6 separate regions of the Homo sapiens genome follow, and regions 1, 2, 3, 4 and 6 are each linked to region 5. Evidence: fine-mapped expression QTL. A gene starts in region 5. Each other region holds a variant in brackets. All regions are shown on one strand. Distances are from middle to middle.

Region 1 (4,086 bases), 560 kb before region 5:
CCACATCTGTGTCACATCGAGTGCTTTCTGCAAGGGGGTTTTGCAGTGCATTTTGTGTGGGTTTTAGATGCAAAAAAGCGTATGTGCAAATGGTATGCAAACTCTGGGGTATGCAGGGATGGGAATCTGCTGGCTGAAGAGGTCAGCCCAAACATTGCTGACGGCCCTCTGCAAGAAGTTCAAGGGGAAGGTCAGTCAACAAATGCGGAGTTGAGTAAGTACAGAAAAAGGCCACATTTATGCCAAGGGAGACTCAGGACCAGCCCTTTGGATGGTGCATGATGAAGGACTGCAGGAATGAGGGATGAAGCAAGTAAAAGGAAGATTCGTATGTATTTTGCCATCTCCCGATATTAGCCATGAAGACCCTTCCTCTACTTTAGCAACATAAGGCTGACATTTCTATTATCTCTTCCTGTCACCAGGTTTATTTCTCCTGGAGCAACACAGTTGCTCTCTTTAAGATGCTGTCAAATGATGTTCAATCAATGCTATTTAAAAGCAGTTTTCCCTTTGAGCCCTAGACTCTGTGTAATTCTATTACTAGAAGACACTATCTCATAGAATCTTGCAACTCAGGCCCGTAAAACAAACACAATGGAGTCCAAACCACCCTGGCAGTTTCGACTCTGCAACAGGCAGCTTCCAGACACCCGTGGCTAGTGCGAGAATGTTCCAACTTGCTCCCACGCTGGCAGAGCACAATTAGAGGATGGCTGGCAGGTATCAAATAGAGTGGTGGCACACCCCGGACAGGGCCAAGGCAGGCCTACAGCTCCCTCTCAGCCAAAGGCAGGAAGCTCTGGGGATCAGGGGCTCAGCCGCCTCTGGTGCCGGCCCCCCTGCCTAGACTGCATGTAGGCCTCCCTTGGCTTTCTTAGGCACGACAACATTCTGGCACCAGTGTGGGCCTGTCGCGGGAACCCACAGGCTTCCCAGGCTGTTATGGCTGTGGTCACCGTAAACAAAAACAGCAGTCATCCTGACTCCAAAACATGTTCTCCACAATGTGAGTGCAGGGAGATTTTGTGCTATAATTAAAATACATAAAGACATGCAACATTTGCCATATTTACTCCAGATAAACAGACTCCTACTCAGAATCCTGTCTGTGTTCCTCAGGACTTGCTGGGTTTACCTCAAGGGGCCAGACAAAGTGTTATTTTCTTTTCTTCATTTTTCTTTTTTTAGACGGAGTCTCACTCTGTTGCCCAGGCTGGAGTTCAATGGTGCAATGATCTCGGCTCACTGCAACCTCCGCCTCTTGGGTGCAAGTAACTCTCCTGCCTCAGCCTCCCGAGTAGCTGGGATTACAGGTATGCGCCACCTTGTCCGGCTAATTTTTGTATTTTTAATAGAGATAGGGTTTCGCCATATTGCCCAGACTGCTCTCGAACTCCTGATCTCAAATGATCCGCCGTTCTCAGCCTCCCAAAGTGCTGGGATTACAGATATGAGCCACCGAGCCCGGCCCAAAGGGTTATTTTCTGAGTGCACCCATGATGTGAGAAAAGTTGTTAAGCCCTGACTTTCAAATTTCTCTTCCTGGAAACTGACCTGGATTTTACTAATGTCCTATCTATGGCAGAGTCTGGAGTGAACCGAAGACTAAGCATAAATGCTGCAGGTCAGGGGCTGTTTCTTATGCCTGAACATCGCGGGGCCTTGGACACCGTCTTTCCAAATCAAGACAGCATAGAGCACAAGTGCTCAGAGGGAATGAGCGAGGATGCAGCTGGCTGCTGCCTCTCAGAGTCACAGTTGGTGCACGGACCCCAGCACTAACAAACGGCCACCAGGACGCTCCTCTGTGTGCATGGGCTCATGTCCCTGACCACGAAAGGCTCAGAAGACGCACCTTTGGCCTGGTGCTGGCTGTAGCCTTCGGGGCATCTGGAACCTGAAGTCCTTCCTTGAATGCTGCAAAAATAATCTTTGCAGCCAAAGTCAGGCCCGCCTCGGCCTCCCAAAGTGCTGGGATTACAGGCGTGAGCCACTGCGCCTGGCCGCAGGCATGTCTTTTTTAAAAAGACAAAGCATGTAATTTTTATATTAGTCTCAGTTTGGTCAGAGAAAATGACTGGTCTGTTGCTATCAGCCTCAGTTACTACGCTTTATTTTTTATTTTTCTTACTAGTGCATTACAGTTAAATAGAATTTTATTGAAGAAGTTATTGGGCTGAAGGCAGATCACTGTAAAGCAGCCCCCATCACTGGCATCTGGTCTCAGTGTGATAAATGCTCAAGAGGAGAAGAACCTTCACAGGGCCAGGAAGTGATGATGTAGGTTCCCTACCTGCCGGAAGGCGC[C/A]ACATCTCTGCCCGCAAAAGCAGATATGGAAGTTGCCCCTCTGTTCTCCAGTCTCTCTCTTAGAAGCAGTTATCCCCTCTCAAGCTCCTTATTTCTAACCCCCCCAGCCAGTCCCAGGGGAGGGCAAATGCTAAAATTCCAAGGCCATTTCCCTGGGAGAAGAAAGGAGAGGTGAGCAGGAACAGAGAGGCAATTATTTGATTGTGGAGACCCGCAAAACCTATGAACTATTTGGGGTCCCCATCCCTAGTGTCACCTACCCTAGGGAGATGGGTGTGGAAAGGAAGACTCTTTACTCGCTCATTACCAAATCATGCAGTTAGTCAAGTTCTCCGCAAAATCATATCAACTTTGTTAAGAGATAGGAATTAAATAAATGTCTAAGTATTTCTCTGTGACCGTCTTTTAGCAAGCAACCTTAAAACTGGGTGAATTTTGGGGATCCAGCAACCAATTCTGAAAAATTTGATGAAAATCTGATTTAAACAACTTTTTTTTTTTCTAAGTGTCTAGACCTTTCTGTATCAGAAATGAAAGTTTATCACAGTGTCTTTTTCGAGCCCCAGTCATTTCAAGGACACGATGAGAAAAAGCTAATGCATCTCTCCTGCTCTTCTCACTACTCAAGCTCAGGAAAAACTGCACCCTGCATCCAAAGAGTGGGTGGGCTTAAGGATGTAAAGGGTCCAACCTTGACGGGTGGGACAGCGACTGGCTGGTGAAGTCACTTAGCTCTTGCTCTAGTCTCCACCAGGGTGACCCCAGCCAGTCGTCTGGCCATTCAGGCACTTGTTTGTCCAGCTCTTGCTAATTGGGTTGGCATTTGGCTTGTCACCAGGTATTTGGGATGCTCGCAGGGAAAGTGTGGAGAAATACAAACCATCACCTTAATAATTGGTATGATATTTCAGGATCTCTGAATTTCTTCCTTTGTGTGATATTTCTGGAGAGAAAAATCCACTAATAAACCTTTTTAAAATTAATATTAATGGGCCTCTTAACTGTAGCTAAGATATGAGAGTATCTTTCTCTCAAGATGGTCACTGTAGGAGGCTGATTAAAAACACTTTGACTTCGTCAGACAGAAGGGAGTATTGTATCTTGCATGTCATCAATTAATTAAACTTTTCAGCATCATCCAAGAATAGCCTTAACAATGCGTTTATTATTAAAGAGGACACTCATGTGGAATGAGATGCATGCGAGGCTACAGTGCATTGCCAAACCATCTATTTTTGGGGTTAAGACTATATTAAAATTCCAGTTTTATGACTTTAAGCTATGTGCTTCTCAAACATCTGCTTTAAATTTGTCAGTACTTTCGTAATTTAGCCTAATAAAGTTGCATAGTTCTTAATTCCTAGGGAAAGAATAGTGTCAGGGGGAGCAAAAAAAAAAAAAAAGTCTATACTTTCCCAGGGTCATAGCAAATAATTGTGTAATATTCGAACTAGTAATTTTTTTTTTTTTTTGAGACAGAGTCTTGCTCTGTTGCCCAGGCTGGAGTGCAGTGGCGCGATCTCGGCTCACTGCAACCTCTGCCTCCTGGGCTCAAGCAATTCTCCAACCTCAGACTCCCATGTATCTGGGACTACAGGTGCACATCACCATGCACAGCTAGTTTTTGTATATTTACTTTGACAAAGACAGCATTTTACCATGTTGCCCAGGCTGGTCTCGAACTCCTGGCTTCAAGCTATCCACTCACCTTGGCCTCCCAAAGTGCTGGGTTTATAGGCATGAACCACTGAACCTGGCCTTTGAACTACTGATTTT
Region 2 (4,086 bases), 570 kb before region 5:
GCCCTGAACTCTCCCCAGCAGTTGTTTGGCTCCTGGGTTAGTGCCTAGATGGGAGCCGTTCATGCCTGCAAAAAAATGCAATGGCCTCGTTGACGGGTGTGCATCCTAAGAGTAACCTGCTCCCACAGGGTTTGTGGTGGGGAGACGACTGGTTAACTTTTTGGAAAGGCCAAGCTGGCGTCTTTCTAAATGGCATGTGTGGTGGAGAGTTCCACCACCTAGAAAGACTGGAGTAACGATGGAGTCACTCCAGAAGGTGAGAGAGCTCTGCAACTGAGGGCCTGCGAGCTCTGTTATGAAGGAAATCGAAAGCTGCAATGGGCCTCGTTAGGATGCTGTTAGGGTTTAGGAGGGTCCTGGCCTCATCGCACACCCTATCCTGGGTGTCCCAGTCAGAGACACACCCACAGTCACGCTCCCTGGCATCATGAGGGTAGAGGGAGGAGCTCTCTGGATCAACTGGAGCAGGAAGGGGCACTGTGGACAGGTGTGGCTGGTGTTGGCCTGATTCTGGCACATGCCCAACTCTGGGGCTCCTTCACAGAAACTCTTCAGTGCAAAAAAAAAAAAAAAAAAAAAAAAAAAAAAAAAAAAGAGAAGGCCATGGAGTGGTTCCAAGTCCCTCAGTGGCTGGAAAGCCAGTCCTACAGGAGTGGTTTCTGGCCTGCATGCACTGGTCCTATACACAGAAGCTAAGAACTCCCAAGCCATATAATCAGCTTCAAGGCGCACAGAGAAAATAAATGTCAGCCAAGCAGTTTCTGACCCCACAGGATTCAATAGGGTCCTCCCACTCAGACTTATAAACAGCACAGGAGTACCTTAGCAATGGCTGTGTGTGTGCGTGGGTCACTCATGACACTGGACACTCTGGACACAGTTGGGTTGATTATTTGAACTGAGCATATGACATCTTTCCCCTTCTAAACCAGAGCTTCCTGAAAGGCAGCTCAGCTCAGGCAGAGGGAGCAGGATGGGTGCTCAGTGCCAGCCTTCGTAGCCAAGAGGCAGCCAGACTCCCCCAGAAATGGGCCCTTCCCTTTTGTTCATTGTGTGGGTGGTGGCTGAAAGGAGGGAAAAGCCAGGGGCAACTGAGAAGTGTTCACTCCTTCTTGGCATCAACTTCAAAGGGCCCCCAAACCAAATGTCATGTCTGGAGCCAGTACATTTGGCCAAGTGTAGAAGTCCAACCAGATCATTAGCTTTGCACAGTACCCCCAAAACAAACCCACCCCTTCAGCTTTCTTTGGACTCAGATGACAGACACTTGTGAGGAAGAGGTTTGCTGGAGACTTCATGAAGGTAGTGCCTGCTGGGCCTGGCTGGAGAGGACAAGGACCGTTCCACCTGCCAGACAGTCTTCAGTCAGGGCCCTGCTGGTGCCCTTGGCACTGCCGGGGGTTGGGATGCATTTTGGTGTCAGAAGTGGGACCAGCAGCTCGGACCGCCGAGCCATCACTTTTGCGTTTTCACACATAAAATCCTGATTGTGTTTCCTTGATTTTTCTTCTTTTTAAAAAAAAGGCAGTTCAGAAGATTTACATCGTAATGGGGAAGTGAATAAATACCAGCACTTATGGTTCTTATAAATTTATGTTTTGAAGACAGCATAGCACTCAAGAGGAATTCGACTGTTAAGGTCGGTGAAACCTAAGGAAACAAACAATTACATCAAGACCAAGGGGCTGCCAAAGGTGCAGGATTCAACAGTCCAATCTCCCATCTTCAGGGAGGTTCTTGACCGTGAGAGGGAGGTGCGAGCTTCCCACCGTCATCCCCACAGGAGTACCACTGAACACACACCTGGCTTTGAAAGTTTCATCTGGGGCAGCCCTGGTGGCCTCCACCTCCTGCCATCAGCCTGGATCCAGCAGCAAGGTGCAGAACCCAATCTGTGTCTCTGAGTCTCTAGACTAAATACTTGCTATATCCTATTTCTCTAAATGTTCCCCCCAAAAGAAAGTCAGAATTAAATCAATGGCTCTGTTGCTAACTAGCAATGCAACCTTATATAATCCTCTTAATCACTCCATGCCTCGGTTTTCCCAAATATCATCATGATGCTGGACTGTCAGGGAGAATGTCAGGGAATAACAGAAGTGGTCCACTTTGGAAGTCCCGTGTGGATGTGGTATTTTGTTCAGGTTTGGCCTCTGCTGACTGGTTGCAAATTGGCAACAATCTTTTCTCCTTGACCTAAGTTTTCACAAAAACCCACCTTGGGGTCGTTGGTAGTCTGGTGCTTATCAGACCTTTAGTTTAAATGAGTGAAACTCAGACTTTGCAGAAAGTTGGTTTTAGCCCGGGCCATCTGTGTTCCACTTCCTCGTTTCAGTAACCTAAAGTGGAACCGCATGCCTGCCTTCCTACTATCTTCCCTCTCATGGCACCCTCCAACCCACTCATGTCCCACAAGTGGGAGAGCTT[T/C]ATTTGGAGATAAATATTGCAACTTGAGGGAAAAAAAGGAAAAAAAAAACCCTTAATACTAACCTTGTTAAGTGTCTACTCAATTCATGAACTTCCATCTCAGTGCTTTTGAATTCATTGAGCTCCTTTCGGATGGCAGCCTGGAATCAACAGAAGCCCATCAATGTGCAATGGGAGAGAGACAGAAAAAAACTCCCCTTTCAGTTCATTCCTAACAACATATTTTTCTTCTTCAACAAAGACAAACAAGTTTAAGATGGATTCTTTCATTGGGAGGAAGAAAAATCACCTGAGATGTCCTTTAAAACAAAGATTCCCCTCCTTCCCTAAATCTAAGTTGCAAATGATGACAGGCTATTGCCCAAAGTGTGTTTTTCTTCCTCTTTTCATAGAGCTGTGGCATTGAGGCATCAGTGGTGGTGTACACCTACCCCACACTCCTGGGGGCCCAAGAACACATTCAATGTCAACCTCTCATCTTCCATAAATAAACAAAGCTCAGCACAGGCACAGTGATGCCTCGAGGTGGAGACTTCCAGAAGGCGTGGATCAAATTCTCCAACCAAATTAGGGGGACAGGTGATGGCCAGCTCCCTACCAACAGTTTGTTTTTGCTCTTTTACAACTTCCCTGACTCTTCAGTGATGTATTTCACCATGTGAGATACATTTTGAATAACCTCACATGTTCTGAGATGATCCCGAATCACCCCATCCTTATAATACTGCCACTGAAGACACAGGGCCTGGAATCAGACAGCAAAGAGAGGCCATGAGAGAGCAGGGGAGGAGGAGGGGCTGGTAAAGAAGGCAGCTGGGGCCAGAGACAACCTCACTCCTTCCTCAAGGGTGGAAATTGCAAACGTGTGCCTTCTTGCATAGCTCTGTCTATGGCCGATACTTGCTTTGATGGGAATATCAAGGCCCCAGGAGTTTGAGGAGAGAAAAGTCTTCCTGTAGGATCAGAATGGCCCTCCCCAGGAAAAGAAGGCTGGCTTAGGTTTAAGTGCCTGGGTAGCAGCTTTGGGGGTGGGGGCAGGGGTCACCCCATGCTTCCTGTCTTCTGTCCCCAACAGCCATTGAGAAACTGGATATGTTTTCGGCCTAAGAGCTACTCAGAACTCTATGAGGGTGCAAGTAGAGATGTCTGTGGTTTTCTTGCACACTTGCTAATATCCTTATCCTTGCAAGCATACCGCAGAGAGAGTGTGGACAGGAGAGGACAAGAGTGAAAGCCCCTTCCTCTTCGTATTTAGATGACACACTCCTGGGGAGCTGGGTTTGTCTGTCAGGGGCATGGCAATGCCAGTTCCTGGGTTGCTCCCACAAATTCCCTTGCAGAGAAGATGTGAATGCTGTGTTTACAGAGGAGGGCACAGTCTTCCACACATGGTGTCTGTGGGTTGACCCGCCACAGGCGAGGTCGTCTCTGGAAGTCTATCTGCCTCTTGCTGCTTCCGTCCCAGCCAAGTGCAGCAATGTGCCTGCATACATGTTTCCTGCACCTCCTGGATCCAGGGTTGGTGATAATGTAGCCAGCCTGGGCCATAAATGACTTCCTGCTGTATCATATAAGAAAACCCTGGGTCCCTGAAACGGACAGTGAAGGCAGGACTGTTGAGCAGAAGGCCCCTGACACACTCCATAGTTTCTATCGTTA
Region 3 (4,086 bases), 510 kb before region 5:
AAGCTGCTCTTAGGTAGCAAAATAAATCAGGTGGGAGGGAAGAATACTGGCATACTGTTGGATGATGCCTATGTCTACATAACCTCTAGGCACCACCTTTCTCACTTGTACAATGCAAAGGTGATGGTGAAAACAGGTAACTGATTGCTTGCTATGGGCCAGATACTGTTTTAAATACTTCTATTAACTTGCTTAATTTTCACAACTCACTCTTTTACATATGCAGAAACACAGGTAAGGAGAATAAGTGACTTACTTAAGGCTATACACCTAGTAAGAGGGAGAATCAGAATTAAGCCCTGGTAGACTTCCACACATTATGTCCAGGCACTCACAACAGTGTCTGGTACAAAGTAAGGGCTCAAGAGAGAGAATTCCAGAGCTGTGCTGTGTGACATTATGCAAAGTAACCAAAGTTCTCTATGCCTGGTATTCTCATCTGTAAAATGGGTATACAAATGGTGTATCTTATAGACAGGCTCAAAGACAAACAATGTAATACATATAAAATGTTTAGAGAATGGTGGCAAATAGTAAGTACTCAACAAAGGTTACCTAATGTCACATAAACATGCCCTTGATTACAAATACATACATGGGTGGTTAATATCTTAATATAACATAAAGCTATGCCCATGTCTGTAATATCCATACATAAAGGGCAATCACTCAAAATGAGTCCCAGTGGAGTAATGAAGCATCACTACCAACCACTTAACCGTATATCAGAGAGTGTGTTTGTCTGATTGCTTTGTGCTTAATCAAACCACACCTTATCTCTCCATAGGTCCTCAATTCTATTACATGATGGAGGCTGTTCTTCCTTCCTTCCTTCTTTCCTTCCTTCCTTCCTTCCTTCTTTCCTTCCTCCCTCCCTCCTTCTCTTTCGCTCTCTCTTTCTCTTTCCTTCTTTCTCTTTCCTTCTTTCTTTCTCTTTCCTTCTTTCTTTCTCTCTTTCCTTCTTTCTTTCCCCTTCCTTCCTTCCTTCTTTCCTTCCTCCCTCCCTCCTTCTCTTTCGCTCTCTCTTTCTCTTTCCTTCTTTCTCTTTCCTTCTTTCTTTCTCTTTCCTTCTTTCTTTCTCTCTTTCCTTCTTTCTTTTCCCTTCCTTCCTTCCTTCTTTCCTTCCTCCCTCCCTCCCTCCTCCTCTTTCGCTCTTTCTCTTTCCTTCTTTCTTTCTCTTTCCTTCTTTCTTTCTCTCTTTCCTTCTTTCTTTTCCCTTCCTTCCTTCTTCCTTCCTTCCTTCCTTCCTTCCTTCCTTCCTTCCTTCCTTTCTCTCTCTCTCTCTTTCTTTCTTTCCTTCTCTCTCTCTCTCTCTCTGTCACCTGGGCTGGAGTGCAGTGGCACAATAATGGCTCACTGCAGCCTTGACCTCCTGTGCTCAAGCCATCCTCTTGCCTTAACCTCCCATGTAGCCGGGACCACAGGCATGTGCCACCACATCTCGCTAATTTTTGATTTTATGTAGAGATGGGGTTTTACTTTGTTGCTCAGGCTGGCCTCAAACTCCTGGGCTCAAACAGTCTGCCCACTTTGGCCACCCAATGTATTAGGACTACCGGTGTGAGCCACCGTGCCTGGCCAGATGATGGAGGCTTTTCTACAGATGATTATTCTCCCTGGAAACCTGCCTCTCAATTTCTCCCTGAACCTTGAATCAAGTGAATTTTCCAAGATTTGGATAAATAAAGGAGAGGGCACTATAGAAACAACCTTGGAGACAAAATGGGATGTTTTCCATTGTCTCTTCCTTTTTTTTTTTTTTTTTTTTTGAGACAGAGTCTTGCTCTGTCACACAGGCTGGGGTGCAATGGTGTGATCTCGGCTCACTGGAACCTACACCTCCCAGATTCAAGCAATCCTCCTGCCTCAGCCTCCCGAGTAGCTGGGACTACAGGCCACCATGCCTGACTAATTTTTGCATTTTTAGTAGAGATGGGGTTTCACCATGTTGGCCAGGCTGGTCTTGAACTCCTGACCTCATGTGATCCACCTGCCTCGGCCTCCCAAAGTGCTGGGATTACAGGCATAAGCTACTGCGCCCGGCCGAGACTGAATTCTTTTGCTAGAACCTGGAGAGCTAAAGGCCCACTGCCAGGGAGGCAGAGGGTGCCGCTGTCCTACCTGGTGAGCTTGGTGCCAATCTGTTGCCTCAGCTCCAGCCGCTCCTCATCCGTCTGCCTGGGAAGGATGTTCTTTTCTTCCAGCTCTCGCTTGGAGGGCCTGTTGCTGAGTTTGATGGCTAAGGAGTCCTTCCTGCAGACCTTCATGGCCAGGGAGCCTGTAGGAGACAGAAATGAGTCAATTAAGGCTTACATATCTGCCTGGGCTCCCACAGGGCCAACCCTGGGTCATAAGATACAA[G/A]GCAGGAAGGAAGTCATCAAGGTTTTAACACCTGAAAGTGGTTAATGCCTCAGTTCCTAGAGTTCCTGCCATTGCCACACACTCTACCCCTAGCACTGTGTGGGGCACATGGACAGCACATGGGGAACCTGTGATTGGGTCTCTGCTCTCCAGGAATGTCTAGCACGCAGGCAACATCACAAAGGAGGGCAGGACTGGCTGTGGGGTGCAGTGGACTGCAAAGGGGGAGATAGGACAGAGGCTTTTAGCAACTAGGGGAAGTTTCACGAGGAGGAGGGGCTGACACCTGAAGCAGAGATGAGAGTCCAACAGGCAGCAGGTGGGCGGGGATCTGTGTCTGCAGAAGTTCAGCGGTGAAGGCTACACCAGGAAATCTCAAGAGACAGAAAAGATCAACTACACTGGAGCTGGGGGGACGTGAAGGAGAAAAAAGGTAGGCGGACAAAGTGGGGCTGGTTGGGGGTGGGAGTGGAGGTGAGGGCTTTGAAACACGCAATATCCTGGGATGGGTTTTTTCTTTTCAACCCCAGCATTTCTGAGCAGCTGAGGCAGGGCTTCCCTACATCTGATATAAATCAGTGGTTCTCAACCAGTGGTGATTTTGCTCCCCAGGGAACACCTGGCAAAATCCCAAGGCATTTTTTGGTTGTCAAAACTAAGGTGGCAGGCAGAGGGTGCTACTGGCATCTAGCGGACAGAGGCCAGGGATGCCTGTAAACATCCCACAGTGTACAGGACGGCCCCACACCAAAGAATTATCTGGTCCCAAATGCCGGGAGTGCTGAGGTTGAGAAACCTCTGTATAAAACATTTAATTCTCTGGATACTGAACAGCAAACAGGGGCTGAGCAGCTGCTCCTTCCATTCATGGATCATTGAGGTCTCTGGCTGCCCTGTGTGGTTCTTTCCTTGACATCACTTGGATCCCTTCATAGCTCACCAGGTCTTACTTGGAGCCAGCTATTTGAAGCCTGGTAAGTAGAGAGCGAGAGAAAACGCCAGCAGGCAACAAGTCTGAGGATGGCTTTGGGCTTGATTGAGTAGTGCTTTTCTTCTTTCTTCCTCCACTAGTTTTAGAACATGAGCTTCAGAATGTGACAGAGCCCGCATCAAACCCCAGCGTTGCCCCTTAGCAGACGTGAGGCCCTGGGCCAGCGCCTTGTCTCTCCATTTTCTGCCCTTATCTGTAAAATGAGGCAATAGTGTCCATGCCTCAGGGTTGTTGTGAGATGTAGGTGAGAGATTAAAACCGTAGCCCATTGTCAGGCACACAGTACATGTTCAATGCATGGTTGCTATTCTCATAAGTTCATTTATTAAAAAGTTGGCCAAATATCAGGCTGTACTCACGTAACTAAAATTTATTTACTGTTCATGGCCAGAGTGATAGGTTTTGAACTTTGCTTTCTTCATTTCTTCTCTTGTCTCTTAGCACATTTAAAGGTCATAAATAAGAAATTTAAATTGAGGCCTTCTAAAGTTGCTGAGGTATGCTTAAAAAGTGAATTTGTTGCATACACAGTGAGTAGTATTTGAGTGTTTGCTAGACAGGGACAGAGTTTTAAACTTCTTAAAGTTTTTTTTGGGTGGGGGAGAAGTTGCATCCTAAGAGAAGCAACAAAGAAGCCACTTAAAGAGGTAGGAGGTGGCAGTAATTTTTAGAGCTAGGAGGGAATTTAAGGAGGGCATTTAGAGGACATTTACCCTCTCCTCTTACTGATGTAG
Region 4 (4,086 bases), 490 kb before region 5:
AATAGATTAGTGGTGGGTGTGAGCGAGTTCGAGCTCTCCCAGGAACGGACTAGTTCCCAAGGAAGAGTGGGTTGTTAAGAAGAGTCTGGGTTCCTCAGTTTCTCTCCTTTGCTTCCTCTCTTGCCATGTGCTCTCTGCACACACCAGCTCCCCTTCTGCTTTCCTCCATAGGTGGAAGCAGCCAGAGGCCCTCACCAGAAGCACCATGTTTCTCATACTTCCCAGTCTGCAGAACTGTGAGCTAAAGAAATCTCTTTTCTTCACAAATTACCTGGCCTCAGGTATTGTTACAGCAACACAAAACAGACCAAGACATGCTAGTCTACAATATATGTCTACAATTTTGCCATTATGATGTGAACAGATCCTTTCAAAGCTGGAACTTCCCAACAGGCATGGGATTTAAAGCCAGCCCTAGGGTCAAGTCCACCAACAGCATGCCACTCTGCAAGTGCCTTTACTGCTGCCAACCTTAATTCCCTCTTCCATCACCTAGGGACGACCATCCTGCTTTGAGAGGATGCTTTGTGAAGATTAGTTTTTGCAGATCCTGGCTTGGGTGCACGAGTGGGGCAGGAGTGAGAGTGACTGCTGGACTGGTGGGCCCACTCAAGTGTGGGCTACTGAAACAGTAAGGAGGCTCCCACAGGGGATTCCAGGCTGCTGGAACCTACCTAGGACCAACTGCTGGGTTCCATGACAATGCCATTGAGCTTCCTAGAGATGCTCCACATTTGAGGGGCTCAGGGTCAGACTAGACCCCAGGGCATTTCTGGGAAGATGTAGCCTGCTGCCATACCCCACATTTCTGGAGGGGAACCTGGTTGAACCCTGTGGGTTGTAGGCTTGCCTGGGAGAAGCATGGTCTGGAACAGCACAGCAGGGAGGAGTAGGGAGTCTCAATGCCCCACTGGCACCCCGTGTTGGGGAGCACCACGCAGTTCTGACTCTCCATCTCGGAGGCCATAGATTCTTCTCTAATGATCTATCTGCCTTGAACGTGGCCTTCCTCCAGTCTAACTTACAGTCCTGCCAAAATGACATTCCTAGAGCACAAATCTGATTACGTAGCTCCCCAGTTTAAAACCCATCCATGGACTAAACCTTCCTGATACATCATTCAAGGCCTTCCATGGGCTGGCTCCTGCTTGGTTCATCTCTTCATGTCCACATTGTACCTCTATAAAGTCTGCTCTGGTTCCCCCAGTTGGAAATAACCTTACCTATGGCACCTGAAAAGCTGGAGCAGAATCTCTCCTATGGCCCAGATCACTTCTCCTGTGGATTCTACTTATTTGGTGGCCCATGGATTCAGGGTCTCCATGCTCAACAAAGTTGACCAGGTGGCCTTGGCCATTCTCCCAAGAGCTGCTGCAGTCTTCCCCAGCCTCCTCCAGGATCCTCACCTTCCACAGATGCCTCTCCCTATCCCAGTGAGGAACTGAAGAGGAGCACTCACGGCTTCCCCACCTCCCATTTAGTTCCAGCCCACTTTTCTCACCATTACCCAGACCATCCACCCTCACTCCTGAACTGCTGAGTTTCCTAAACTGCCTGATGTTCCCATAACCCTAGGCTTTTGCATGTCACTTTCCCTCAGTTTAGAATATTCTCCTCTGTTTTGTCTTCTTGGTCAATTACTAGTCGCCCTTCAAGATCCACCTCACAAACAATCACCCCTGAAAAGCCTTCCTTGATCATTACATCCCTCTTCCCACTCTGTGGAAAGAGAGTGGGAACGTGGATGCATATTATGTCCGTGTTAATCGTGTTAATGATGATAGCAGGAATGACGACAGTCATGATAATCAAGACTTCTATCATGCTTACTATGTGCCAGATACTGTTCTAAGGGCTCTTTGTATTCTAACCGGTTTAATCCTTACAACAAGTCTGAGGTAGATGCCATTATTATCTCATGTTTACAGATGATGAAACAGGGTCTCTGAAGACACTATGCTGCAC[T/C]TCCTGTTTACATAACTGTCTCCTCTCCCGGAGAAGAGTGACAGTGTGTAATTTATTATTGTACCTCAAACCTCAGCATCTTGTTCAGTGACCAGCTCACATCACAAGAGATGCAAATCATGTTTACAGAATGAGCCAAAGTTATGATGATCTGCTGTGGGATGAATTCACACCTTCCCCAGAAATAGATACTCTAGGAGGGAGATGTGAGCCTGAAACAGATTACAATTTTAGGATCACGCAGTTGTGGCATATGGACACTAAACTTCTGATCCTACCGCTGAGACACAGAAAATTCTAATCATTTCAGGGGGCCTGATAAGATTGCTCCCCAACACCAGAATGCAAACCAGTCATAACCACAGGCTTCCGCATGTTCATTCCTGAGGGCTTGTCCTGTTCATTGTGACCCCTCATGCACATGGTGCAAGGTCACCACATTCAGGAACTTAACAGGCAGGCTAGCTAGTTCCAAAGTGCTGAGACACGGAAAAACTCAACACCATTGTCCAGCTCATCTTACTGAAGGGTCCACTTACATAGCTCTTAGAAGCTTCAGTGCAGGCGGGCGCGGTGGCCCACGCCTGTAATCCCAGCACTTTTCGAGGCCGAGGCAGGTGGATTACTTGAGGTCAGGAGTTCAAGACCAGCCTGACCAACATGGTGAAACCCCGTCTCTACTAAAAATACAAAATTAGCTGGGTGTGGTGGCAGGTGCCTGTAATCCCAGCTACTTGGGAGGCTGAGGCAGGAGAATCACTTAAACCCAAGAGGTGGACTTTGCAGTGAGCTGAGATTGCACCATTGCACTATAGCCTGGGCGAGTGAAACTCTGTCTCAAAAAAAAAAAAAAAAAAGCTTCAGTGCAAACCTAGCAAATGCAGTATGTCCTGAGGTGTTAAGGATTTTGCTCCAGGACCCTTAACCCATAGTCCTTCATTTGAAGACTCTGATTCTCTAAGGCAAGTAGGTGCTCATTTGCTTGGTCAGGAGAAAGAACCAGGAGGGCAGAGTGGAATTCTCTGCCTAGGAAGGAGCAGTGATTATATTGAGTTCTGCCCATCTTGTTAATCAATAGCTTCTCGTAACATTCCACCACTTCTTGTGACTTCTTCCATAGCAAAACCTACTTGGTTTCATCACTAGAAAATTGGCCAAGTGAGCCCCAGCAATTCTATGGAAACAGGCAAGGAAGAAAAGGCCAGCTGGACCAAGTTAGTGGAGACGGTTGTTCTTACTGTTCCAGGAAAGGCATGCTGGGGCCTTGGGGAACCCCCCTCCTTCTTTCCTGCTGCATCTCCTTTCTGGTCATTGTGATGCACATAGCTATGAATTAAAGGGCAGCGAATAAAAGCAAATCATTTAAAATCATTTTTGGCTCAGTGGATTTCATAAAAATGAACAAAAGTAAGAAAAGGGCTAAAATCAGGTAGAATTACTTGCTTTCTGTGAATTAGCCATGCAGTCTCTATCTTTCCCTAAAATTGTGGATAACTGAGGAGAGGCTGGGCAGCTCATGTCTTTGTTAGAGTGGCAATGCCTATTTGTATATTTTTACAACATCTTAACACCAAGTCATTCCCCATAACATAACTAGAGGCACGATTTGGAACCAGCTGCATATTATCTGTCATTCTGAACTTCCATCTAAGCTTTTAATCTCCCTTTTCCCACTCAGACTTCTGTATTCTCTGGCTTCTTGACCACTACACCAGTCTAGACACTCATCTCCTCTTATCGTGTGGATAATGCGGTCCCAGCCCTCTGATCTGTCCCCACTCTGTACCAGATATCTATCTCCCTACAGCACCTGCTGGGCATGCGTGAGGTCCATGATGGCTCCATGCTCAGTCCATGCTGCAAGTCCAAGTATGACTCTGTCTGGACTCTACTATGAGTCTCCCACTTACATCTCTCTCGTCCACTCTGGCCTCTGGATTTCCCGATAACCACGCTCCTTCTCTCTTCAGGGCCTTTGCTGTACTCACCTCCTGAAATGCCTTCCTGTTCCTTGATAATAAAAATTGCATTTGCCCCTCAAGCGGCAAATGAAGACCCGCTTTCCTCTGGCAGCCTTTCCTCCCTTAACTCCTACAACCCTGGTGGTCAGCAGCGCCAGTG
Region 5 (4,086 bases):
GATGCCCTAAGATTTCAAGAGCTGTGGCTGCAAACTGGAAATTCTCCAAGGGGAAGAGCATTCTTGATTCTTTTTGGACATAAGTGTTGGACACAGGTGGTAGGAAATCATTTCTAACATAGCTTTCTGAGGGGCACTTACACCAAAAGTTGGGCATTTTTTTAACCACATCCAAGAAGTGTGGATTTATTTATTCTATTATATACCTGCCTCAATTCCAGCAGCAGTTTGGTAGAGGTTATCAACTTAGAAATACCGGTTATTAAACTTTCAGAGCAAGGCTTTAACAGCTACAGCCTACATGGCTGTTCATATAAAACCGACGTGCAAATAAGAGGAATTTCTTTTTCTTATTTTATTACCTTGAGCTCCTTGACTGTAGAAGAATCTTTGAGCTGACTCAACATCCAAGAGTCTGTGAGCAGACTCTACATCCAGAAAATAATCCATTTTGGGATAATCCATCCTTGATGTTCCAAACACAGAGTTTTGAGAGAAAACACTGGAACACCTATAAAGAGGAAAAAAAAATCCACAATATTTTAGACGTCAAGTATAAAGTGTATATATAGATGTACTTTAAAATGTTTGAATAAGAATATCCCATTATAATATTCTACTACTTGATTGACATTTGCAATTCTAAAGCCACCCCCCAGCATAGCTTTCCTACCGTGTGAGAAAATGCCGCATTTAGCCAACATTCATTAAAAGTAATATATTCTACTCAGGAAAAACAGATGATCTGATCTAAAGAGAGATAACATACCAGCCTTTCCTTGCTTTATATTCTCTGGAACATATACTGTTAAATTCACATGCTATCAGTTTTCAAAAGGTCTATTTGATAAATAGCGTCATTAAGTGTCAGCCGTTGTGAGTGTTGATCCTCAGCTCATCCTGGGACTTTCGGATTCCCCTGGAGCAGGGAAAATTGCCTGGGAATCCGAGCCTCCACTCATAGATGCCGTGCGTTTATGACACACACTGACATATTTGCTGTACAAATGCTTTGAATTCCTTCCTTTCCGGCGATTCCCTTCAGCACATTTTATAAAGTGCTAGAGGATCGTCACCTGCCTGTGCCTGGCAGGGGCTGATTTTTGAGAAACAATTGTGGTTTGTAGAGCAGCAAGAATGATTGCAGCATTACAGTGATCCCTATATTATCATACACTAGCCTGTCACAAAGCTAATATACTTCCCCAGAAAACATTCAGCCTGTTGGGTTCTTTTTTCAAGCCTATGTAGCCTTTCCCTGATACTCACACAAATGAATTATCTCTATTTCTGCAGAATATTTTTTTGGAAAGAATTAACAAGACAAAGTCATTAAAACCAAGCTTGGAAGTCTAATCCAATTGGTTTCTCTTTCTAACAGTATGTATTTTAATTTAAGAAACCAAGTCCGGTAAGACAAAACTTTTAAAAATACCCAAAGGTACCCCAATAGCAAATATACTTACTGCAAAAAATAAAAATCAAAGGCTATCTGTCAGCGGTAAAACAAGAGCCGTTCCAGCCAGAGTGTCTTTGATCTTGCTAAATATTCCCGGTGAAAGTAAACGATTTTGATTGTTTGATTAGAACAGTGATGAATAATGCATACAGTCCACTGGACTTCCTTTATCAGATAAAATGGCCAGAGCACGTTACCTTAGCAACGGAAGGTGACGCCAGCCTCAGCCTCTGCACCCTCCCCTGCGAAGGGAGAAAATTACCAGTTTCCCGTGTAAAACTTTGGCAGAAAATCATCAAATCCACATGCATACATCATGCAGGGCTATTCCCCAGCCCCCTATCTCTTAGGCAGAGAAGTGCCATAGTCATTAAAAAAAAAACAAAACAGATTTATGTCTTCATTGTTTATTTTCATAATCCCAAATCTTAGTTTGATTTGCAGCTACAAAAGAATAGAATATGAAATGATTAAAAATTTAATATATAGAAAAGTTGTCTAGAAATTTTTGTGGGGGCACCAGTTATTACCCTAATGCTGGCCTAAGAGTGGCAGGGAATGGGGGAGTTTAGGGAAAGGCCATTTTAGCTTAACATACGTTAGACATTCCCCTGTTATAATTAATACACAGAACAGCCACCGGCATCTAGGCTGAAAATAACTCTTCCCTTCTGCAAATCAGTCACTGGAAGAAGCTTAAAAAGCTGTCTGAAATTTCCCAGATTCTGAAAGACATATTATAGCATAGATTTTGTGGGAGATCCCCACTCCCCCCACAACCCCCATCCCCGGCAAAGGAAAATTAGCCAAAAAGATATTTGAAAGGAAGAGTCTGGAAGTTAGCGGATACTCACCGGCACTTGTTGACCCCTTTCAACAGGACACGGTAGAGTACAAAACAAAGCAGTGCGACGCTTCTGAGCCCGCAAGCACAAATGAACAGCTTCTAATTTTCCCTTCAATCTCGCTTCAAGAGCACTGAGCAGAGGGAAGTGATGGATTTGCCCATTTATACTGTGATGAAATGCAACCCTTAAGAAGAGATCTGAGTGGAGCTGCTCTTTAGAACACATTAGACTGCTAATTTAAGAAAATTGAAAGGTTTTGTTTTACTGTCTTTTATGTGTTCTTCTCTGCTACCCCCTCAATTTAATTTGCATTTAAAATTATTCTCATGTCTCCTCAGCTCTCCAAGGTGTGGAGTACTTTCTAATCATGAAGGCTGCTCCAGTAGGGTTTGGTGCAACACCACTTTTATGCTGAGCTGCAAAACAAGGCAGGTAGTCATAATTGTGAGCTGTTTTCTGGAGCGAAATACAGAGGGCACGTTTGATGTCACCCCTTCCCTCTTGCCTGGCTTTCTTCCTTTCCTTGCTTCTGATTGCCTGGTCAAATATCCAGCGCAGATCATGCCAGTCTGCCTAAATGCATTTCTCTCTGTCTGAATGTAACAAAATAATACCAACAACAAAAATAAACTTTGGCTAGTATCTCAAGTTATTCTGGTTTAATATTCTTCCTACCAAACCTCAGTAATGACTTTTAGGCACAGTACTTTGAGATCTTCATGCAGGGCATAGTGATAGCCAAATGCAAGCCCTACTGTGGGTTTTCCACAACCTCTTGCACCCTTTGTTGACCAAGCAGAATTGCTCATTAGTATGGTGTGGTGTACAGTGGGTCAGCTTGTTAAGAAAAGAGCATTTACATTTGATAAGCCTCGGAAGGAAGACCATCAACACCACCCCTGTCCCCCCACTCCCTATACACAGCTCGGCTGGCTGCCCTTGAAACAAACCTGAAAATCCTCTGCTGTTTGTTTTGTGGGGTCTCCCTCTCCCACCCGATCAGAACAGATCAGACACCAAGCCGGTGCTGCAGACAGTTAAGCCTCATGAAAAAGGAAGCTGAAACTACCAATCATATGCCCTTGTAGGAAAGTCAACTATGGACTCTGAATTCTGAAAGCTTTGCTCCAACCCAAGGACTGACTTCTTTAAGGTTACTTTTCTATTCAGCACCCACTGGAGACATGCTGAACACTTGACATTTATAAGAGGAGAAAGCTGTCTTCTGGTTCCTTTTACTTACTGTGAGGTGTGGGCGACAGGTTCTGAACTCGTTATTGTAATTCTACTGAAATTGTAATGACTCATAGATGAGAGAAAGAGAGAGAGAGAGAGTATAAGTCTATGCTGCTGACCAAACCTTTAGGTGAGTGCAAATGAATGTGTGATTGAAGAAAGAGATGCTAAACTGGAAATGTGAAAAATAGAGTTGATTCCCAGGGGGTAGGTGGTGGATTTGGAAGTCAGTCATTTCTGGAGAGTTGACCAAGAAAGAGAAATTTAAAATACTTTACAAAGTGAACAAATAATATGAAAGGGTCGTAATTTAAGAAAACTCAGGAGGGAAAATTTCAACTTAAAGAAATGTATTTGGGGCCGGGCACAGAGGCTCATGTCTGTAATCCCAGCACTATGGGAAGTCAAGGTGGGTGGATCACCTGAGGTTAGGAGTTCAAGACCAGCCTGGCCAACATGGTGAAACCCCATCTCTACTAAAAATATAAAAAATTAGCCAGGCATGGTGTTGGGTACCTGTAATTCCAGCTACTTGGGAGGCTG
Region 6 (4,086 bases), 560 kb before region 5:
TTTTTAGTAGAGATGGGGTTTCACCATATTGGCCAGACTGGTCTCGAACTCCTGACCTCAGGTGATCCACCCGCCTCAGCCTCCCAGAGTGCTGGGATTATAGGCGTGAGCCACCGCGCCCGGCCTTGGGACAGGTCTTTAAAGGAAGGAAACCCCCTGTGCCTAGAAAGGGGTGGGGACCATCTGATAACTGTGTCACCTTTACACTCAAGGTGACTATACCTCCCACTAGCACAAGTGGTGTAAGGTCAGAGCAGAAATCAGGCCCTTGAGGGCCACCCCCACGGGCCTGATTTGGCCCCCCAACCGCCTGTGGGCATAAGGCTTTGTAGAAAGGCAGCACAAGAAACAGCCACATCTTGCTGTGGGCTGAGGTCACCAGAGGTCCCTGCTCCAGCCTACCCTACAGTGCCTGAAACCGTCACCATGAGTGTGCTTTCCTTTGGATTTAGAGATCCTATCTCCCTCCCGGAGAGGTTTTTTTTTTTTTTAATGCAAATTTCTCTTGAATAAAAGCCCATTAAACTAGTCAGCCATTAATAGCTCAGTATGAATTAATCTAGTAGAGATAAACTGGGGGGCAGACAGCAACACCCGGAAGTAGGGAGCCCCCAGACAGTGACATTTGTACAAATGCAAATTTCAGTGGGATAAAACCTATTAAACTAGTCAGCCATTAATATCTTAGTATGAATTAATCTAGCAGAGTTAAATGGGGAGGCAGACAGCAAGAACCAGAAGGAGGGAACTCCCATTTTGCGATGTCTCAGGTGGGAAAACGGATGGAAGAAAAGGTGGTCTGGATGTTGGGTCACCAGGGACAGCTAGAGGGCACACGGTGAAAATTTACAGAAGCACAGAATACTAGGGCCATGAGGGGACCTAGTGACCACCTCGTCTACCACTCCTGGTTTATAACTGAGGATCTGAAGCCTCAGGGGTGTTAAGTGGCCAGTCACACCCTACCTGGCTCAGTGGTTACACAGATAGGTTTTTTCCTGTGGTCATGTTTTGTGTGGGGCCGGCTCTCCTCCTCATTACTAGCCTCAGACTTCTGATCCTACAGGTCCCTTCAGAGCCGTGAAGGCGGGCATCCTGTGACACAGCTGACACAGCATGGAGCCTTCATCTCCTATGTGCGTTTCTTAGGTCACTCTGAGGGGTGGGGCCACAAGCTACCACCTACAGAATTGATACCTTTAGTTCAAAGCCATTGACCAACCCAGGTTCATGAATTTTCAGGCAGAAGGTACCAAGACAACCCCATTAGGCAACTAGGAAGACAGGCCAGGAAAGGCCTACGATGTCGTCATTACAGCTGCCACCGTCAGAGGGTTCATTATGTGCTCAGAGGTGCACAGGGCCTCACTGGCTGCTGGACAGAACAGGGGCTGCTCCCAGGACCAGGCAGGGTGGGGCTGGAAACCAACCCAAGGCTCTCAAAGCTCCAGGGCTGAGCCATGGCATCTCTGTGCCCTGTTCCCCACCACCCAACACCGAGCAGTTCCTCAAATGGCTGAAAGCTCAGAAAATCAGTTTTAAAACAAACTATTGGAGGATGTTTTCTTATACCACTAGACATTTTTTTTGTTTAACAATCGCAATAGATTAAATTTAAAAAAATATTTAGGAGAACATAGTTCCAGAATACAGGGAAAAATAAGAACCTATGGGAAAACAAGTTGATTTCTGAAAAGTTTCAAAACTATGAAATGACCAACCTGTTAGAATTGGTCAAGTAGTTCTTTAATTTGCAACTATGTGGCCAGGACAAGAGGGATTAGGGAAGAGAATAAAAGAGAACCATGGGAACAATCTTTCACAACTCCTTTTTGGTCCCCTGAATCTAAGTTCCCTGGTTGATGGCGGTAAAAACCCAAGCTCAAAGGACCTGTAGTCTCCCAGGGATCTGGACAAGCCACAGCGGGGATCTGATATCTTTGAGAGAGCCCAGAGCTGAGCTAGGGGATTTTAGATCTCTCCAGAAACCGTACTCCTGGTGTGATAAGCACTATTTTCTGAAACCTAAATAATCCCCCGGAGGCTTTTAGCTTCTTTGAGTTTAGGTCTCAGGTCAGAGGCCACAAGTACAGCAGCGGGCTGTGAGTAAGTTGTACAGGTTCACCTGGCTGTTTATCTTTCTCTCCAACAATGGGAAGTTTATAATGGCTCAGGTACCAGATTGGGGCCGAAAGGAAGACATCCTACAAGCCAAATGCTTCCCTGACCTTGGAAATGCTTTGAAAAAGCTCTGAATTCATTATATAGAATATTAAGCTTGGAAACTTTAAAGGGTACCCCTTGGGCAGAAAAAAGTAAACACACATTCCTAGAGACCTAGGCAAAGCGTAGGGTTCCCCCACGACTGAGGAAGGCTAATCCTGAAAATAACTTCTACTGAGAGTTGAGGAAGTGGCGGCTGGCGTGGGGACGGGAGGCAAGACAT[T/C]GATAAAGGCAGAGTTGACATAAACGGACATGCGGGGGCGTCGGGCGGGGGTGGGTGCTGTAGGCAACAGGTCTCCCCACCAAAGCGGAACCCAGCACCCACCTTCAGCAGACTACGAAATGCCGACCAAGTCACAAGGCCACAGTGAGCACGGTAGAAAGGTAAAGTCAAGAATATCTTAGTGTGGTTTCAGTGGAAATTCCCGGCAAACTCACACTGCGGTTGCATGTGATTTACTGGGCACGGGGCGGGGCGGGGCGGGGGGGCCGGGGGAGGCAAGGAGTCAGTCTGTACAACATAGCATTTCTAGAAAACTCTGCATAGTATATATCTTTCTCTTCTGGAGAGAAATTAGAAGTGTGTTGTGGGGTAGGGGGAACAGGGTCATGAATTAAGCCAGAAATATTTGTTCACTATCTTGAGGCCAGTGTTGGCGAGAATGGTAGCAATGAATGAATAGAATGGTTTGATATTTAAGTTATTTAATATCTACCACTAAACTGACGCATACTGCTGTCCATCAAATGCTTGATCTCTTTTAGTATTTTGTATCCTGTTTTCTCTTTTTTTTTTTAAAGCACCAAGTGGATCCTCTGTACATATTCAAATGTCTCTGTGTCCTAAACCAAACAAGGGGCTCATTTATTTTTTTCTGTCTGCAGCAATGGTGAAAGGCAGTTTTCCTCGAATGAGAGCATCAGACAGGCATGCCCGGGACCAGCTGTGGGAATCCTGAGAGACAGACATGAAGCACTTCACTTGGAAATGCTTTCTTAGTCTTTCAATTTAACATTCAAAGGGATGAGGGATTTTTATCAACAGCAGCCAGCTGCAATGCAAAGTCATGCTTTCTAGTCTCAGTTCAAATGGACATTTCCCTTATTTTAGCCGTGCATATCACAGTCTCCATTTTCAAGCCAATTCTGGTTTAAAGGTGACCCTGCTCTTAAAAATCATTAAATAATAAGTGGTCTCACTCTAATTTTTCAGCTTCTCTCTGACTTTACAACTCACTAAAAGGAAGGTTCTGCCTGCCGCCCGTGAGCTTCTAAAGAATAAAGTGGAATAAAATTTGCCTTCTCTTTGGGGAGGTCGTCTTTGGTGTTCTAACATGCACACATGAAGCTTCAACCGTTAGAAAGGTTTTCAATGCTTTCCGCAGAGGCGCAAGGTAGAAACCTTGTGGCCTACCATTAAATAATAACAAAAGCCGCCACAAAACATCAGGGATTGCCATGGGCTTAGTCACTTACGTTTCAAAATGTTCCTCTGTTCCAGTTCCTCTGCAGTTGGCCTCTGGCTCAGCCGCCTACGGAAAAAATCCAGGAAAAGTTTTTGGACCATATCATAGCCTCCTTGGGTCATTAATTTCCTCGGCCCTTGCAGATACATGAGACAGTCAGTGGCTGGAGTTCTTGTTCCATCCTGTGCTCTGAAAGACTGACTCTCGCCACCACCGCCTCCTCAGTTCCTCAATTTCAAGCCCAGGAGAGGCACGTGCGTCATGTCACAGCCGCTGACCCCCGCCCTCCTCCCTGCAGCGGCCCCTCCCCAGCCCCATCTCCTCCAGTGGCCCCAGGCAAGTGGACTGCAACTCAGACGGGACTCTTTTCTTCACAGAAGTCCTTTTCTTTCCTTGT

What was found. PIP is the estimated chance that this variant, and not a neighbour inherited with it, causes the effect.
Region 1: its variant is fine-mapped to the expression of PHACTR1 in whole blood (TOPMed, PIP above 0.99).
Region 2: its variant is fine-mapped to the expression of PHACTR1 in whole blood (TOPMed, PIP above 0.99).
Region 3: its variant is fine-mapped to the expression of PHACTR1 in whole blood (TOPMed, PIP above 0.99).
Region 4: its variant is fine-mapped to the expression of PHACTR1 in whole blood (INTERVAL, PIP above 0.99).
Region 6: its variant is fine-mapped to the expression of PHACTR1 in whole blood (TOPMed, PIP above 0.99).

Annotation. Positions count from the first base shown.
Region 1 is chr6:13,278,659-13,282,744 of GRCh38, reverse strand. All of the region lies in intron 12 of PHACTR1 (phosphatase and actin regulator 1), which reads right to left. All of the region lies in intron 8 of TBC1D7-LOC100130357 (TBC1D7-LOC100130357 readthrough), which reads left to right. LOC100130357 (a long non-coding RNA gene) reads left to right here. Exons shown (of 5, transcript NR_160971.1): 4 at 1,192-1,316; 5 at 1,589-3,588. Among named protein-coding and RNA genes, the nearest start is that of TBC1D7, 48 kb to the left of the region's middle. The variant C/A (reference allele first, on the strand shown) is at 2,311.
Region 2 is chr6:13,284,627-13,288,712 of GRCh38, reverse strand. It overlaps PHACTR1 (phosphatase and actin regulator 1), which reads right to left. Exons shown (of 15, transcript NM_030948.6): 14 at 2,491-2,567; 15 at 876-1,650. The coding sequence ends at 1,635. The region is part of intron 8 of TBC1D7-LOC100130357 (TBC1D7-LOC100130357 readthrough); the gene reads left to right. The region is part of intron 3 of LOC100130357 (a long non-coding RNA gene); the gene reads left to right. Among named protein-coding and RNA genes, the nearest start is that of TBC1D7, 42 kb to the left of the region's middle. The variant T/C (reference allele first, on the strand shown) is at 2,428.
Region 3 is chr6:13,228,229-13,232,314 of GRCh38, reverse strand. PHACTR1 (phosphatase and actin regulator 1) reads right to left here. Exons shown (of 15, transcript NM_030948.6): 10 at 2,122-2,278. LOC105374933 (a long non-coding RNA gene) reads left to right here and starts at 2,342. Exons shown (of 4, transcript XR_007059456.1): 1 at 2,342-2,794; 2 at 3,196-4,086. RefSeq lists a silencer at 2,724-2,813 and an enhancer at 2,984-3,043. The variant G/A (reference allele first, on the strand shown) is at 2,362.
Region 4 is chr6:13,201,218-13,205,303 of GRCh38, reverse strand. The region is part of intron 7 of PHACTR1 (phosphatase and actin regulator 1); the gene reads right to left. Among named protein-coding and RNA genes, the nearest start is that of TBC1D7, 130 kb to the left of the region's middle. The variant T/C (reference allele first, on the strand shown) is at 1,966.
Region 5 is chr6:12,715,124-12,719,209 of GRCh38, reverse strand. PHACTR1 (phosphatase and actin regulator 1) reads right to left here and starts at 2,443. Exons shown (of 15, transcript NM_030948.6): 1 at 2,314-2,443; 2 at 1,467-1,701; 3 at 363-511. The coding sequence starts at 465. The region is part of intron 1 of LOC107984015 (a long non-coding RNA gene); the gene reads left to right.
Region 6 is chr6:13,272,529-13,276,614 of GRCh38, reverse strand. PHACTR1 (phosphatase and actin regulator 1) reads right to left here. Exons shown (of 15, transcript NM_030948.6): 11 at 3,700-3,755. The region is part of intron 8 of TBC1D7-LOC100130357 (TBC1D7-LOC100130357 readthrough); the gene reads left to right. It also overlaps a transcript of LOC100130357 not described here. Among named protein-coding and RNA genes, the nearest start is that of TBC1D7, 54 kb to the left of the region's middle. RefSeq lists enhancers at 2,125-3,324, 4,036-4,086. The variant T/C (reference allele first, on the strand shown) is at 2,447.